Linked DNA regions of Homo sapiens: all the other regions are reported to be linked to region 3. Evidence: microRNA targets listed by miRTarBase, many of them from high-throughput screens and not tested one by one. Region 3 holds a microRNA gene; each other region holds the end of a gene's coding sequence. Distances are between the middles of the regions.

Evidence for each region. Region 3 holds the annotated microRNA hsa-miR-4735-5p (CCUAAUUUGAACACCUUCGGUA, at 2,919-2,940, shown strand). A microRNA usually pairs through its seed, bases 2 to 8, with sites in the 3' UTR of a target mRNA and lowers its output. Matches are read on the target gene's strand: a 7mer-m8 pairs with bases 2 to 8, a 7mer-A1 pairs with bases 2 to 7 and ends in A, and an 8mer does both.
Region 1: miRTarBase lists DBT as a target of hsa-miR-4735-5p. Seed matches in the 3' UTR shown: 7mer-m8 at 3,981-3,987, 7mer-m8 at 3,845-3,851, 7mer-m8 at 2,895-2,901, 7mer-m8 at 2,656-2,662 and 7mer-A1 at 343-349.
Region 2: the mRNA of SRRM4 is a reported target of hsa-miR-4735-5p. Seed matches in the 3' UTR shown: 7mer-m8 at 1,294-1,300.

Annotation. Positions count from the first base shown.
Region 1 is chr1:100,191,984-100,197,043 of GRCh38, forward strand. DBT (dihydrolipoamide branched chain transacylase E2) reads right to left here. Exons shown (of 11, transcript NM_001918.5): 11 at 1-4,439. The coding sequence ends at 4,272. It also overlaps the pseudogene RPL23AP90. Among named protein-coding and RNA genes, the nearest start is that of LRRC39, 16 kb to the left of the region's middle.
Region 2 is chr12:119,156,115-119,161,174 of GRCh38, reverse strand. It overlaps SRRM4 (serine/arginine repetitive matrix 4), which reads right to left. Exons shown (of 13, transcript NM_194286.4): 13 at 1-4,680. The coding sequence ends at 4,377. Among named protein-coding and RNA genes, the nearest start is that of HSPB8, 20 kb to the left of the region's middle.
Region 3 is chr1:196,580,318-196,585,392 of GRCh38, reverse strand. MIR4735 (microRNA 4735) reads left to right here and starts at 2,912; the gene lies at 2,912-2,980. All of the region lies in intron 1 of KCNT2 (potassium sodium-activated channel subfamily T member 2), which reads left to right.

The sequences.
Region 1 (5,060 bases), 96 Mb from region 3:
TTTTTTGGTAGAGCTGGGGTCGCCCAGGCTGGTCTCAAACTCTGGACTCAAGAGGCCCACCCATTTAGGCCTCCCAAAGTGCTGGGATTATAGGCATGAGCCACTGTGTCCGGCCTCTCTTGGTGATTTTGACTGGAAATGATGTGGGTTCACACACATGATCCAATCTCAAGAAAAGACAGTGTAGAGGGAAGGGGGTAAAACCACCATTAAGAACTGATTGGGAATATAGCTCAACTCTAAAAGCACTGCTCTTCTCTAGGTTATTGGCACAGACCCACTTCCAGTGATAGCTTTAATTATTGGCTAAAGCTTTTGCTGTGAGGGCAAAAACTTCATCTATCTAATTCACCTTTATCCATAATCTCTACCCTAGAGCCTGGAACTGAATATACAGTTAATAAATAAGTGCAGAATGAACTAACTAATCACTTACAGCCTGAATTTTACAAATGCCTTTGAAGACTTCATGGAAACATTTGTATTCTTGGTACTGTAGGGCAGTGCTGAGCCCTGTCATTTCTTTCTTAAACCATAGTTTACTTAGAAATCAGCAAGGAAATCCATCAAGTGATTTTGGGGATCCACTTTGAGTGGGAAGCCATGAGAAATGCCCAAACAAGCCAGTGGGCTTTCCAGACTAAGAGCTATCACTTTCACTCTTTCTACATAATCACTTCTTACATAGGTTTCAACATAAGGTACATTTTGATCTCTAAAATATAAATTCATACCAATTTTAGCTTCCATCCTCAGACTTCCTTTCCTGTTGTACTTCCTTTTCAAATATCAGAGGAATGCTCAAAATAATGAAAAGAGCCTTGATTTTCTTGCTGACCACTCGCAGCAATAATTTTGGCTTCTCCCCCATGTACATATACCTTCTAATCTCCAGACATGTTAGTAAAGGACTTGAATTTTCTGGCTTTTCCACTTTAATTCCAACCTCTAGGAGTACAGCAAGAGCCTTTTCCTCCTCCCAAACACCCATCCCTTGCTTTGTAGAGCCTCATGGACCAGCACTGCCACTAAGGCTGCGCTCCTGCCCCTTTGGCCCTCTTCAGGGAATCCTGCTATCCTAAGGGCCGTGCACACTGTAGGGAACAAATCCTTTGCTGAATTCTCAATGCATGAGACCAAAGAGAAGATAGTAATACCCAAGGGTTGGAATAGAACCAGATAACTTAAGGGTTATTTGGGAATAGAGTATCTTGAGCCATTGATGCTGGACCTACATACTTACTTATTTCAGAACTCCCTTCTCCTGGTTTTTCTATTCTTTAAGTGAGGAGGACATTTTTATTGATCATGTCATTATTCATTTAAAACTCAATAAATGCCTATCAATAGATAATTGGTTAAATTATGGGACATCCATCTTCTGATCCTTCCAGATAAGATCGGTAACCTTTACTGGATGGCTCATAGCATCTGGGTTATTACCTACCAAGAACAGTGTTTTATGCAGTTATTTAATATCTGTCTCCTTACTAGACTGTAAGCCCAATCAAGGAAGCATGAAGGTGGCTACTGTATGCTTAGAACCATGATTGGTATGGTAGATGTTTAATGTTTGAATGTATAATAAATGCATACAATGGAATACTATGCAGACATTTATTTATTTATTTATTTATTTAGAGACAGAGTCTCGCTCTATCACCAGGCTGGAGTGCAGTGGCTCAATCTTGGCTCACTGCAACCTCTGCCGCTGGGTTCAAGCAGTTCTCCTGCCTCAGCCTCCCGAGTAGGTGGACTACAGGCGCCTGCCACCGTGCCTGGCTGATTTTTGTATTTTCAATAGAGATGAGGTTTCACCATATTGGCCAGGCTGGTCTCGAACTCCTGACCTTGTGATCTACCTGCCTTGGCCTCCCAAAGTGGTAGGATTACAGGCGTGAGCCACCACACCCAGCCTATGCAGCCATTTAAAGCATGACAATGTGGAATTGTTTATTGACATGTAAGGTTACCCATAATATAATGTTAAATTTTAAAAATCAAATAATAAAATAGTAGATATGCTATGATCATGTTTTAACAAAAAAGAATAGCCATACATACAGATAGATACATCAAAATGTTAATAGTGGTAAGATTATGAATGACTTTTTCTTTTATTGGTTAACTCTTTGTATTATCTGAAATTTTACAACAACAGCATTTATTTGACCTGTTTTTTTTATTTTATTTTATTTTTTAGAGACCAGGTCTCACTCTGTCACCCATACTGGAGGATAGTGGCACAATGACAGCTCACTACAGCTTTGAACTCCTGGGCTCAATTGATCCTCTTGTCTCAGCTTCCTGAGTAGCTGGGACTATAGGTGCACACCACCACACTTGGCTTTTTGGTTTTTTTTTTTTTTTCTGAGACAAAGTGTTGCTCTGCCACCCAGGCTGGAGTGCAGTGGTGTGATCTCTGCTCACTGTAACCTCCACCTCTTGGGCTCAAGCAATTCTCCTGCCTCAGCCTCCCAAGTAGCTGGGACTACAGGCGTGTGCCACCAGGCCCAGGTAATTTTTTGTATTTTTACAAAACTGTAGAGATGGGGTTTCACCATGTTGGCCAGGGTGGTCTCGAACTCCTGACCTCAGGTGATCTGGCCACCTCGGCCTCCCAAAGTGCTGGGATTACAGGCGTGAGCCACCAGGCTAATTTTAAAAATAATGTTTTTTGAGATGGGATCTCACTATGTTGCCCAGGCTGGTCTCAAACTCCTGGCCTCAAGTGATCCTCCTGCTTCAGCCTCCCCTATAACTGGGATTACAGTTACAAGTCATCACACCTGGCTGATTTATTCTTTCCTGATTTTAAAATTATTTCCATTTTGAGAAAAACCAAGTAGATATTAAAACAACCTTTTTTCTGTCACAAAACTTCACTTAAACAACTAATTTTGGCATACAGTTTTCAACTGGACAATATTAGAAACAACATGGATTTCCGAATGCAAATTGAAATGTTGGATACATTCATCTCGTTGCTATTTCTGATTAAAGTAGACCTTTAACAAAATGATCATTATGAAACCTTCATTTCTATACAAAATTTCTTATTTTTTATATCCATAATTACTATTAGACTCTTCCTTCTCCTCTTATTTACATTCTTACCCAGGATATGGAGAATGGAATAGACCTTAATTTCTTATCCTATTTTTTAGCTGAAGACCAAAAAAGTTAAAAGGAAGTAGACTTCTCAAATTTTTTTTAAAAAAAGAAATGTCAGTGGCTGCTACATTTAAAGTACCTTCCTTACATGAGGGAAGTTTGCAAAGGTGAAGGTCTTCCCCAAGAAAATACCAAAGCATTACCACAAATCTAAAACTATATCCATTTTAAACAAACACCTTTAATAGACTGGTTATAAAACTATAATTGGACAATTTTAAGGCCAGTTTATACTTTTCCCTTTTCAAAGACATTAATTAATATAAATAAGACACTATCAGATGATATTCTCTATACAGAGCAAGAATATACTCTTGGATATCTCAAAAGAGAAGTATAATTGCACTTATTTCATACAACAATTAGCATAATAACGGAAATGGAAAATATTTTTGTATATAAATTCCATTTCTTAATTAAGTAAAATTAAAGTTTCATTAAGAGTCAGTTAAAAAAAATAGGGCATATACTGTCTGTATATGGCTACCTGTCTTTTAGTAACATGAATTTTGTTTTTTTGTTTTTGAGATGGCGTCTTGCTCTGTCGCCCAGGCTGGAGTGCAATAGCACGATCTCAGCTCACTGCAACCTCCACCTCCCAGGTTCAAGCGATTCTCCTGCCTCAGCCTCCCAAGTAGCTGGGATTATAGGTACCCACCACCACACCCGGCTAATTTTTGTATTTTTAGTAGAGGCCAGGTTTCACCATGTTGGCCAGGCTGGTCTCAAACTTCTAACCTCAGGTGATCCGCCCACCTGGGCCTCCCAAAGTGCTGGGATTACAGGCGTGAGCCACCATGCCCGGCCTAATTTTGTTAATCTTGCCAGTTTCAAGCCATTGACACAAAAACATCAGCACCATATTAAGAAGTCACACTCTGACCTATAAAATGTGACAGCCCCAGGAGAACCATTACACCATTATTCATTTTCAGTAAAAAGTCTAATAGAACAGTGACAAATATTGTGCCTTAGATCCTTAATCATACGATACAAATCATTTACAATATAAATTGTAAAGATGAACATGTGCTGGCACAGCTAGGGTTTACATACTCTTTGGAAGCTCAAAAAGTTCAAGAATGTCTTATCAGTCTTCATTTCAGATCTAGTAGCATAAAAGCTGGGTTTTCTAAATAGGATTTCCACAAATTGGAGAAGCGTGACATTGTAGCACCATCAATAACTCTGTGATCAGCTGACCAGCTCACATTCATTATCTGTGCCTTATATACTTCTCCTTTCTGGTTAAATCGGGGAATGGCCTAGAAATGAAAAAAAAAAAAAAAAAAAAAAAAAAAAGAACAAAGAGTAAACCTTCACTTGTTCAGAGCTCAAGCTCTAACAATGGTGTAAGATCAGGCAAACCCTTCTTCCTGTACAGTACAGAAAAAAATGGGCATCCCCAATGACTTTTGAAAATGCTGATTCCTACTCTTCCCATCTTTGAGTATATGCCTGGAGCTTACAGAAGTTCTCCAAGGTACTTCCTATCCCTTGTACAATTCCCATACCTACATTCATTAACTTTCATCTCAGATTTCAAATATTTAATAATTATTTACTGTATACCCACTATGTGCCAAGTATTCTTCTAGGCTCTGGGGAGAGACAGACAATTAAATAAGGCTTCCTCACTGAAGGCAGTGAGGAAACAAGCCATTATCAAGTTCCCCTGACCACTGAGTTGGCCAGGAAGAAGACAGGACAACAACATGCTTGTGTTCTTTGTGGATATTAAAGCTAGTAAGCACCACATCAAACAGGCTGGAAGCTCTATGACACTGATGCGGCCAAGGTCAACACCTTGATCAGGCCCGGAGAGAGGAAGGCATATATTCCATTAGCTCCTGATTACAATGCTTTGGATATTGCCAACAAAATTG
Region 2 (5,060 bases), not on the chromosome of region 3:
AGGGGAAAAGAAAACAGCAGAAGAAAAGATGAAAGTTGGACTGGAGAAGGAAAACAATGTGCTTTCTTTGCCTTTGAGAGCACCCTGAATTTTGGCCTCTCCAAGCAGACCCTTTTGCAAAAGAGGATGGGTCTGAGCAAATGAAGTGATGCGGTTCTCTGAGACTGAGACCTTTGTTCTAACATCTTAATTTTATTCTGCTTCTGAAAGATCAGCTGTCCTTCAAAGAAGGGAAGGAATGCAGATAGGAATATGATCAAACCTCAGTGAACCAGAATGTTACTAATAGGGGGCTTTGAGTTACTTAGCCTTGCCTAATTAACTGAAGGGAGATCAAATCTTGCTTTTCGTTTTTACTTTCATGATGGACAACCTCCTAAAAATGTTTGAGGCTCTTTTCCTTTTCCCTCTGAGTCTCAGTGAAGCTCCCTCTGTCTTTGGTGACACTCTCAGGCCTCAGGCCAACATTTTGAATTTTTATCTCACAAATCCCTCCACTTAACAGAGGTCGAACTTTGCCCTAGGGAAAGGGAGCAATGTATTCAGTTTCTGTCATCCAGTGCACTTCCATAGCGGGAAGGTCAAAGGCTTGGGATGCATGGCGCTTGACCTCAAGCCACATCTCCCTCCCATTTTGGATGTTGGTTTTTGAGATAAATCCTCACGACGAGCAGCATCCTGGTGATCTGTCATATTCCTTGGAAGCAGAAGGTAATGAGGGTGAAATGGGCGTAGGAACAGCGATACTGGGAATGGGAGGTTCTGGTTAATCAGGGTTACCAGTGCCTCAACAAGCACATTGTTTTTGGATAGAAAAAAAGGAAATGTAAAAGAAAGTAGAGAAATACACTGAGAGAGAGAGAGAGAGAGAGAGAGAGAGAGAGACAGAGAGAGAGACAGAGAGAGAGACAGAGAGAGAGAGAGGCAGAGATTTCCCCGAAGCAGGCATTTAAGCAGCCTTCTTGTAAACTTCACCCAGGAAAGGGGCACTCCCTTGCTTTGGGTTAGGGCTGGATAGTCACATTGCCAGGGAAACAACCAGGGATGTTGCAAAAGTCTCACCAAACCCAAAGCTGGACCAGACAAGCTGGCAATTGCAAGGCAGTGGACAGTGACTTTGGAAAGGGCAAGAGCTGTCTCCGGCCAGCAGCCAGAAGACACTGCCAGTTGGTCAGATAAGCAGGACTGATGACCTTTGGATCCTGGGCCCTTCCAGGATGGGTTTGGAAATGACCTTCTTGGTGGGGTCCTGTGGAACATCTGGCTGCTCCTTCCACCTTTTTTTTTTTTTTCCTAATTTCAGAAATAGCTTTGTGCTTTCCCCTGATGAAACAGCAAGAGATCATAGATAAAAGCTTTTGCTTTTGGCTTGGTGGTTCTCAAGCAAGATGGCTGATGCCTCTTCCCAAGGTAGCCTTCAGATCTCAGGGGACAGAGAGAAATTAGGTACTGTGGAGTGGAAGCATGTGTAACATACATGAAACCAACTAGGTGTGCTCAGAGAAGCTAGGGAGTGATCCTGCTATGTGCCTTGGAGTGAGGGTGAGATCAAGGTGCATCTTCCCTCAGTCAGCTCAATTCCTGCCTCCATTCTCATGGTGTGAGCACCTTGTCAACCCCAAGTGCAATTCCAGTACTAAACCAGACATCATTTTCATCCACCATGGCCCTCAAAATACAAGGCAACTACTTCAGCAAGTACTCAACTGAAGCCTCATCACTCTGTTAGGAGATAGCACATCTGTCTCCAATCTGGTGCCTCCCTAAGGGACATTCACAAGGGATTTCGACTTTGTGCAGCCTTGGCCCCATTTGCCAACTTTCGACTCCAACCCCCACCTAAGTTGCAACTCCACTGTGTCAATTCATCACTGTAGCTCATAAGCCTCTGGGCTGTTTACATCTTTTTGATACCCCTGTGAGGTTCCTGGGGGACAGGAGGCTGGGGTACAGGCCTGACCCTCCTGGACGCTGGGTTAAGTGATGAATTTTGGGACTGATGTGCCTCCTTCTGGGCCAACCCCAGGGTGTTCCAGGCTTAGAGCCTTCAGGGAGAAGGCCAATAGCCCACTCACCTTTGGCCTCTCAAATCCCATCCATAAAAAACAGCAGAAAAAAAAAGGAGATGCACAGAAATAATTTAGGAGATCCCCCCAACACACACACACACACACACACACACACACACACACACACACACACACACAAAACCTCTGTATAAATAAATAATTCAATACTGCTAATGGCGAGAAAGAGAGACAGTCATCAAATAAATAAATAGATAAATAAATAAAATAAATAAAAAGGTTTGCTAGGAGCCCCAGGCAAAATGGTCCCCTAGAGTTGTCTTGATGAAGGCAGTCCGAACGTGAGGTTCTGATGCCTCTCACAGCTGTCCTGCTAAGAAGGTTTTTGGTGGCTCTGGGAAGCCTTTGTCTCCATGGAGGGAGACTGAAGTCCAGTCTGGGTTCCTGGGCAGGGACGAGGGTTATTTACAGTGGCTGTACTTGCCCTCCCCGGGGCACCTGCCCCTGTCCCAGGCACCTGCCATCTGGCCTTCTGCAGTGACAGCACTGGCATCCATTAGTCTTTGTGGGCAGGGCTTAGGTCTGGGCCAGAGGCCCGGTATGGGGAGGCTGGGTCGTCCACTGCTGCCCGGGGCCCTCACTCCTGTCTTCTGATGGAGGAAGGGCTGTCGTGGTGGTGGTTGCATGGCAGTCTCTAGCCCCATGGGTTGATAGGATGGGAAAGATTGGGTAGGGAGACGTCACTGCTTCCAAGAAAAAGGACTATTTTCCAAATGTTTTCCCTGGGGTGGGAGGGATAAAGAATGTTTGGCCCTTGCTTCCCCATAACCCAAAATATCCAAAAGCTGGGACCGGTCCTCTCTCCCTCGCTCCCTCCGTGCCCTGTCCTGCTGCTGTTGCCACCACAAACTTGAAACTCACCCACAAGCCTCCGGAAAGCCAGTCAGCTGGTGAGGGGGATGCCCAAGAGTTTATTTTAAGGATCTTATTCCTCACCTCCCCGTTCTTAGCGCCTTCTGTGGATGAAGCAGCTGGTGGTATTTGTGGATCGGAGATCAGCTTACCCTCTCTGCCCAGCCCCAGCCAGGGGGGACTTGGGGTGAGGGCAAAAATAAAGGTGGGTCTTTCCCAAGCTGACAAGAAACCTCAGAAGCCAGCAGGAGCCCAAGACATGGCATATCCAAGCCCCTCTCCCCTGCACTCTGGATTCGGGTCTTTTCCCCCAAACCTGAGCTGCTGTGCCCCATCCTGGCAAAATTCCTGAGAGGCAAGGGGAGTGGCTTAAGCTGAAGGGTGGGTGGGTAGGTGCCAGGCTGCACTGGGTGGCATCCAGGGCGTGGCAGCCTGGGCAGAGGGGAGGGGGCTGGCAGGCGCCAACCGGAGGGTAAGGCCAGACTGGCTGGCGCTGGGGCCTGGCAACTGGCCATGGCACTGGGGAATGTTCAGCAGATGGTCCCGTGGAATTAAGTTGGTGCCAGCTAGTGGGGCTGAGGCATATTTGGGAAGTGGGGCTGGAGACCAACCTGTCCTGACTCTTCCACTATCTCCTTTCTCGTGAGGTTGCAGGGCCCCTGTGAATGGCCAAGAGGTGTTTTGTGTCAGCCATGCAGTGGCCTCTTCACAGCTGGGATCTGCTGGGCTCTGTCCCCTTACCATGCTGAGGTATTGGGAGCAGCAGCTGAACCCTTCCGTTTTTCTATCTATCATCTTAACCAACTCCTATCTCCTGACACCTCCCACCAAGTCAAACGTCCCCATCTGGTATTCAAGGATATCCCTTCTTCTAGGACCCAAATGTCTTCCAGCCTTTGCTTGGGCCTGTTTGAGGAAGTTAAAGGCCTGACCCCGTTATCTTGAACCTGAACTGCCATTGGTCTCCTCTTTCACCCCTCTCAGACATGGGGGTCCATCCACGTGCAGCCATGAAGTTGGACTAGTGGGGCATCCGGGGAGGTGGGGAGAATTACCACGGGCCTCCTGTGAGCAGTGGAGGAGAAGAACTGTCTCCACATTTTCCTGGCCAGGGCTCAATTTTTGAGTCACAGACCCATTGCTTCTCACAAAACCTTGAAGTTTTCTTTTCTTTCTTCTTTTTTTGTGCCACAAGATGATGGTTCTTTCCATATGCCCAGGCCTGAGCTGGGCCCCAGGATGATGCTGGTAGAGGCTCCTAGCAGGCTGATCTAGAGAGTGAAGCCCCCTTACCCTCTTCTCCTCTTCCCCTAGGCAAGCAGGAAGGACAAGGTATAGGAGCCCTCACTATTTGTCACCAAGAAGGCGGGGAGGGCAGGTGGTTGGGGGAGGCTGGCAGCGCGAAGGGGCCCCCACGGGCAGCTGGCTCAGGGGCACTTAGCGCCTCGTGCTGGAGTAGCTGTCTGCTGAGCTGTAGCTCCGGCTCTGGCTCCTGCTCCGGCTCCGGCTCCGGCTCCTGCTCCGGCTCCGGCTGCGGGAGCCCGGACTAGGGCTGCGGGAGCTAGAGCTGCTGCTCGTGCGGGTCCGGCTCCGTCTCCGGCTCCGGCTCCGACTCCGGCTCCGGGAGTAGCTGCGGCTGGCCGAGCGGCTACTGCTGCTGCTGTACCAGGAGGAGGTGCTGCTGAGGCTGCCGGATGAGGAGGGGCTGGGCCGATAGTAGGGGATGGGGCGTTTCCGGGCACTGCAGAGACCAGAGAGAGGAGGGATGAGGGCCGGCCCCTCCGTGCCTCCCCGCAGCGAGCCCCAGTCTTGTCCCAAGGGAAACCAATATCCTCCCTTTCCCCAGTCCCTTAGGAAAAAATACTCCCTTTCCACTTCTCTTGCAGTGCTGAGAACACATCAAAGTAAAAGTCTCAGCTTAGTGCTAGTATGTCTTGAAAAATGATTATCTCACTTTTTTCTTTCCCCCATGAAGCAAGCCTGGAGCTCAGAGCCTTCAGCTTGCAACAGAATCTACATCTAAACTTTAATCATAGTTTTGTTTTCCTATTTTTACTTTTACTAGAACCATCTATTTATGGCAAAAGAGGCTAATTTTCCATTTACTGTACTGTATCGTTT
Region 3 (5,075 bases):
TTTCTTTTCCTCTCTTCACAGTTTATTTACTCACTACCAGTTACTTGATGTGTAAGTCAAGTCCCATCCTCTCTTTGAAGAGATAATTTGTGTAAAGTGTTTGACACAGAACAGGATTGCATAGTATCTTAAGGTTATAGCTAGTTTTTAATTTTCTGATCTTCCTTTTGCCTCTTCCTCACTACTGAGCTTTCTTCCTAGTCTCAGTTTTTGCGCTTATTATTTCATTTTTATAACTACTCCCTTGAGTTGTCATTTTTTAAATATCTGCAGTTTCTCCAACTAGACTCCAAGTCTCTTCTACATCGTATTGTACTCATACTTGAAAATAATAAATGCTTGGCAAATACTGAATGATAAGCCTCTTCTGCCTGTGAATGGTCCTTGTTCTGAGCAGAACACATGTGTGCTGACTCTTTTTCATGGGACCCACGCCTACTGGAAGCACCCTCTCCATTCGGAGTTCATCTTTGCAAACCCCACCCCCAAACAAACAAACAAAATGTTTTGTTTGGAACCCTGGGCAAAGTCTCCTGAATATTAGACTGGGTGATAAATCATGAATCATATTTGTACTTGGGTAAAATTTAACCCAAATTCCATTTGGAATCTTCAAGCTAATTAACTTCCTCCTGAGTCCCAAGGTTCTTTTTCTAGCAAAGCTTATATATTTACTATTAAAATAAAATCTGATATAAAAGTTGACAGGAATTTTCTCTTGACAACATTATTTCTAGTTACTACAATGTTTGACAATATACTTTTCTGAAAATATGTTCATTCATCTGTACTCTTTCTGTCTCATCCTCATACTCTGTTGATTTAATGGTCCAGGCATGCCCCTCTCTGCTAATCTTTTCTTCTAAGCCTCTTGGAATACGTGCACCCTTACAAATAAATTTTCCAGCACCTTCAGTTTTTTCAAGGAGAGTTCATCCATTTGTTAATTTGAATAGGAAACAAACTGTAACATTAGAATCTTTTTAATAAAAGCTGCTCATTTTCATACTGCTCCCCATATATCACAGGTTTGGAAATGTGTTACCCCTCTTCTTACAAATTATACACCATTACATTTCCCCTTATTTGAGGCGTATGTTATTTATTACAGCCTTTGCTTTTTTCTTGTCACTGTGTTTTGTCAACCTTTGGTGATTCCTCCACAATTATGGAGGGTTTGGGCGGGAGCTTCTATTCTTTTTATTTTATTTTATTTTATTTTATCTTAATTCCAGATGCTAGTATCATTGTTTTCGCATTCTTTGCCCAGGTAATACCCTGTTCCAGACCCTGCCTTTATAGTTCCTTTAGTTTGGTGACTTTTATATCCAATTCTGCCTGGCACCCTCTTGTTAGGCTGGACCTGAGTATGACCAAGATTGCTCTACTTCTGGAAACTTACGTGGCAACATCCCACCATGTAACTCTAACTTGTCCTTTCAGTGTTCACACTTCCTTACTAACACCAAACTGATTCATTTTTACATATCATCAAGACCTTCAGTACCCTATATATTTCCATGCTTTCCACCCATTTTTAACCTGAACTTTTCTTTCCTGGCTCTTATTTACTCTTCTATCTTGTGCATTCTTTCTTCTGCCCTATGGCTCTACTTACGTTTCTCTTAAAATTTCTGATGATCTTTTTCATGCCAGGTCCAATGAACAATTTTTTTTTTCTGATTCTCCTCCTCTTTCTTGAAACTTCCTTCTCTTGATTTCTATGATATCATTCTTCTTTGTTTTATGTCCTACTCATCTTATCCTAGTTCTCCTTTACAGTCTTCCCTTCTTTTATTTAGCACTAAAAATTATGTTTTATCAAGGATTCTTCCTTGGTTCTTTGCTCTTTTCATTTCTAGTTTGCTTTGTTTAAACTTCAATAAATGTAATTATATGTTGATGATTTCCAAATCATGATATTTGTCTTACTTCTCTGTGCAGAGCTCTAAAACTATATAGACTGCTTTCCACTGGGTGTCTTTTCATGTTCAGCAGACATTTCAATCCACAGTGTCCAAAATTAATTTTGTCATCTCTTTGAAACTATTTACCCTCTGGTATTTTTTGTGTTTAAATATGGTACCAACATGCAACCAGCCACCCAAGGCTGGATTATTAAATTCTTTTTAAAGCTTGGTTCACTACAGATCTCATTGATTCAATTCATAGATGGCTCAAATTGTTGTCCTCATGAGTCCATTTTAATTATTACGCTTCTAATTAATGTGCCTGCCTTTCTCATCTGAACTCTTGAGAGGTGTTTTAATTTTTCTGCCTCAGGTCTTCCTTCTGGCTGCCATTGGACAATTCCTCTCTCTGGAATGAATAACAACCTCTGAAGACATCCCACTCCACCTCTACATGTCACATGATATTCACCTATTTTTTGACCAGTTATCACTTACATAATCTTTATCTCAGCATTTTAGGAAGGCTTTTTCGCTATGCAAATCTCTGTATTTTATAATCCTGTATAATTATATTTTATAATCCTGTATAATTATATTTTATAATCCTATGCAATCTGTATTATCTTCTGTATTTTATGCTTTTCAAACCTTTATTGTACTCTATTTGTTCTACTTTATTTAGTTTGGACAAGCTGAAGCAGGTGACATGGTTCATCTGTATCCTTGCCTGATGCATCACTGAAATGTAAATGAATTGGTGGTGAGAGAATAATTCAAAGGACTCAGTGTTTGAACCAAGCCTAGTCAATGCTGTCAATGCTGCTGTATCTTGGGTGTTTGTGGAGGCACTAAGGTAGTGGCCAGGACTGAAGAAATTGGGAACTTGACCTTATAAGGCAGCTACAAAACTTGCCCTCTATCATTCTAACCAACCCTTCCAAACTTCTAAAAATCTCAGCTCCACTTCTGCAAGTTTATCTTCCCTGCTTGCATAAAATTGCAGTGCCTAATTTGAACACCTTCGGTATTCATCAAAAATACCAAAGGTGCTCAAATTAGACATTGCATTTTTTGCGCATGTCAAGTTGAAATCTATTCATGGATCTTTAGCTCCTTAAGAGAACATGCATATAACATTACTTTTTACTAGCATTCTTCCAAGTACTTTACATGCCCAACGAGAAAGCATAATATTATCCCCATTGTACAGCTGAAGAAACAGGCATAGAGAAGTTAAGTAATCCGTTGGTGATTACAAAGCTAGAAAATGGCAGAGCCAGGAACTTGAACCCTGTTTTTCTTGGCCATTAGGCTTGCTGGAAGGGGATACTAAGATGTAGGAAGGGAAGGTGGAGATGAGGGTCTTTGTTGATTTTCCTAAAAAAGTTGGCGTTGTACTGGCATATGGAGAGAAGTTGATAAGTAAATATTAAATACATACATGTTGGTTTTGAAATATATGATAAGACTTTTTAAAGTCTACCTGAAGAACTGGCAGTATTATTGGTTCTCCCACAGAATTTTCTTATGAAAGACATAATTTTCCTGAAATGTGAACATAGAGGCATTTGTGATGCCTATTATCCAGCTGTCATCTGTCTATTCATGTTGTACACATCTACTATAATTTAAATAGGAGAACAACAAAATGAAAGACTTAGTTTTCAAAACATAAGTAATGGAAGAAAGTGAATTTGATATATTTTTATGACAGCTTTTAGTAAATACTTTTAAAATGAACTGAAGTTAATTTATGCTTGAGTGGGATTTCTTTCTCTTTTTGGAAAGTTTTTATAAATAAATGAAAGAAAATATGTTCTTACTAATAACAGTTTCCCCTCCATCTTTCCCCCATCTCCTTAGGATACTTGTGGAATGTCTCTAGAGTGAGTCGGCCACTGAGAGGACTTTGTATTGTGTTAACTTCATTATATTGAAATTTTGGAATAGCCTCAGGGAATAAGGGACAGAAAAAAATGGGGCAATATTCACCCGGTGGCATTCATTTTCAGTAAAGAGCAAGTAAAACCCTTTATTAAATTTAATGTTTTATTTTTGCTTAGTTTGGAATATACATGTGTATTTCACATATATAAAAATAGAACTTTTTTTACTAAACTGGTCCAGATCTAGATATTTATAGGCATATGGAATTTGGAGGTTACAAAATTAACTTCTAAGAATAAATATTTCCTACTCCTCAAGTATCATGTAAGAATAATTTTTCTATGACAATAAAAAAAGCGAAACACTACAATCTGACCCATATTTTCTTGCCACAGATTAGCATTTATGTGATCTTATTCTAAGCCTATGTGGTACAGAAAGGTAAAAATGCTAAAAGAATGACTATATCACATATATACTAATATTTCAATGTTTAATTTTCTGAAAAAAAAACTGTACGTTTTGTAAATAGCTGTAGCAGCTATAGTCAAGATGATTTCTTGAGAAGAAATTACCTGTTCTTTAAAAAATGTTCTTGCCAAAATAATGATTGTACATAGCTCAAAAATCAGCTATTATTAGAAGGCTTACAAGAAAACAAGAACAAGTAAAACAACAATAACAAAAACCATCTGGCCCCTGCCTTCACCTTGTCAGCTTTTCCATGATGTACTTTTCAGAAAGAAACACTTTGAAGCCTTTTGAGTGTTTTTCCCTGCTTTTATTCTCTATAGTCAGTTTCACAGTTTCTCAATTTGAGGGAGTATTCATTGACTTCCTACTATGAAATATAAGGATTTAGCAGTCTAACTATACCATCACAACACACATCTCACTCCCCATTCTTCCAATACAGTAATTATTTTTGTTTAGAGCAATACCATGTATGCATATTATATGACTATTTCAGTTTTGCTCAGAACTGAGTAATGAGTATTATGATTATCATTTTCTTATTCAACTGTCTTTGTTTCTAAGTATATACACATTTTCATTTTGTTGTCTGCTAAGTTTTCTAGTTACCTATTGATAGTGTTTCACCAAGCACTGTGGTAGAACTATAAAGCCTTTCTCAGGGTAATCAAACACATCAGACAGTGTACCTGTGGGGAAGGTCCAGGTTATGCTGTGGAAAGAAACACTCTCAGATCCTCCGTGGTTCTCTTCTGTGGAGTTACTCAGGAACTCCCTCCCCTCCCACTGAACCATCTTCAA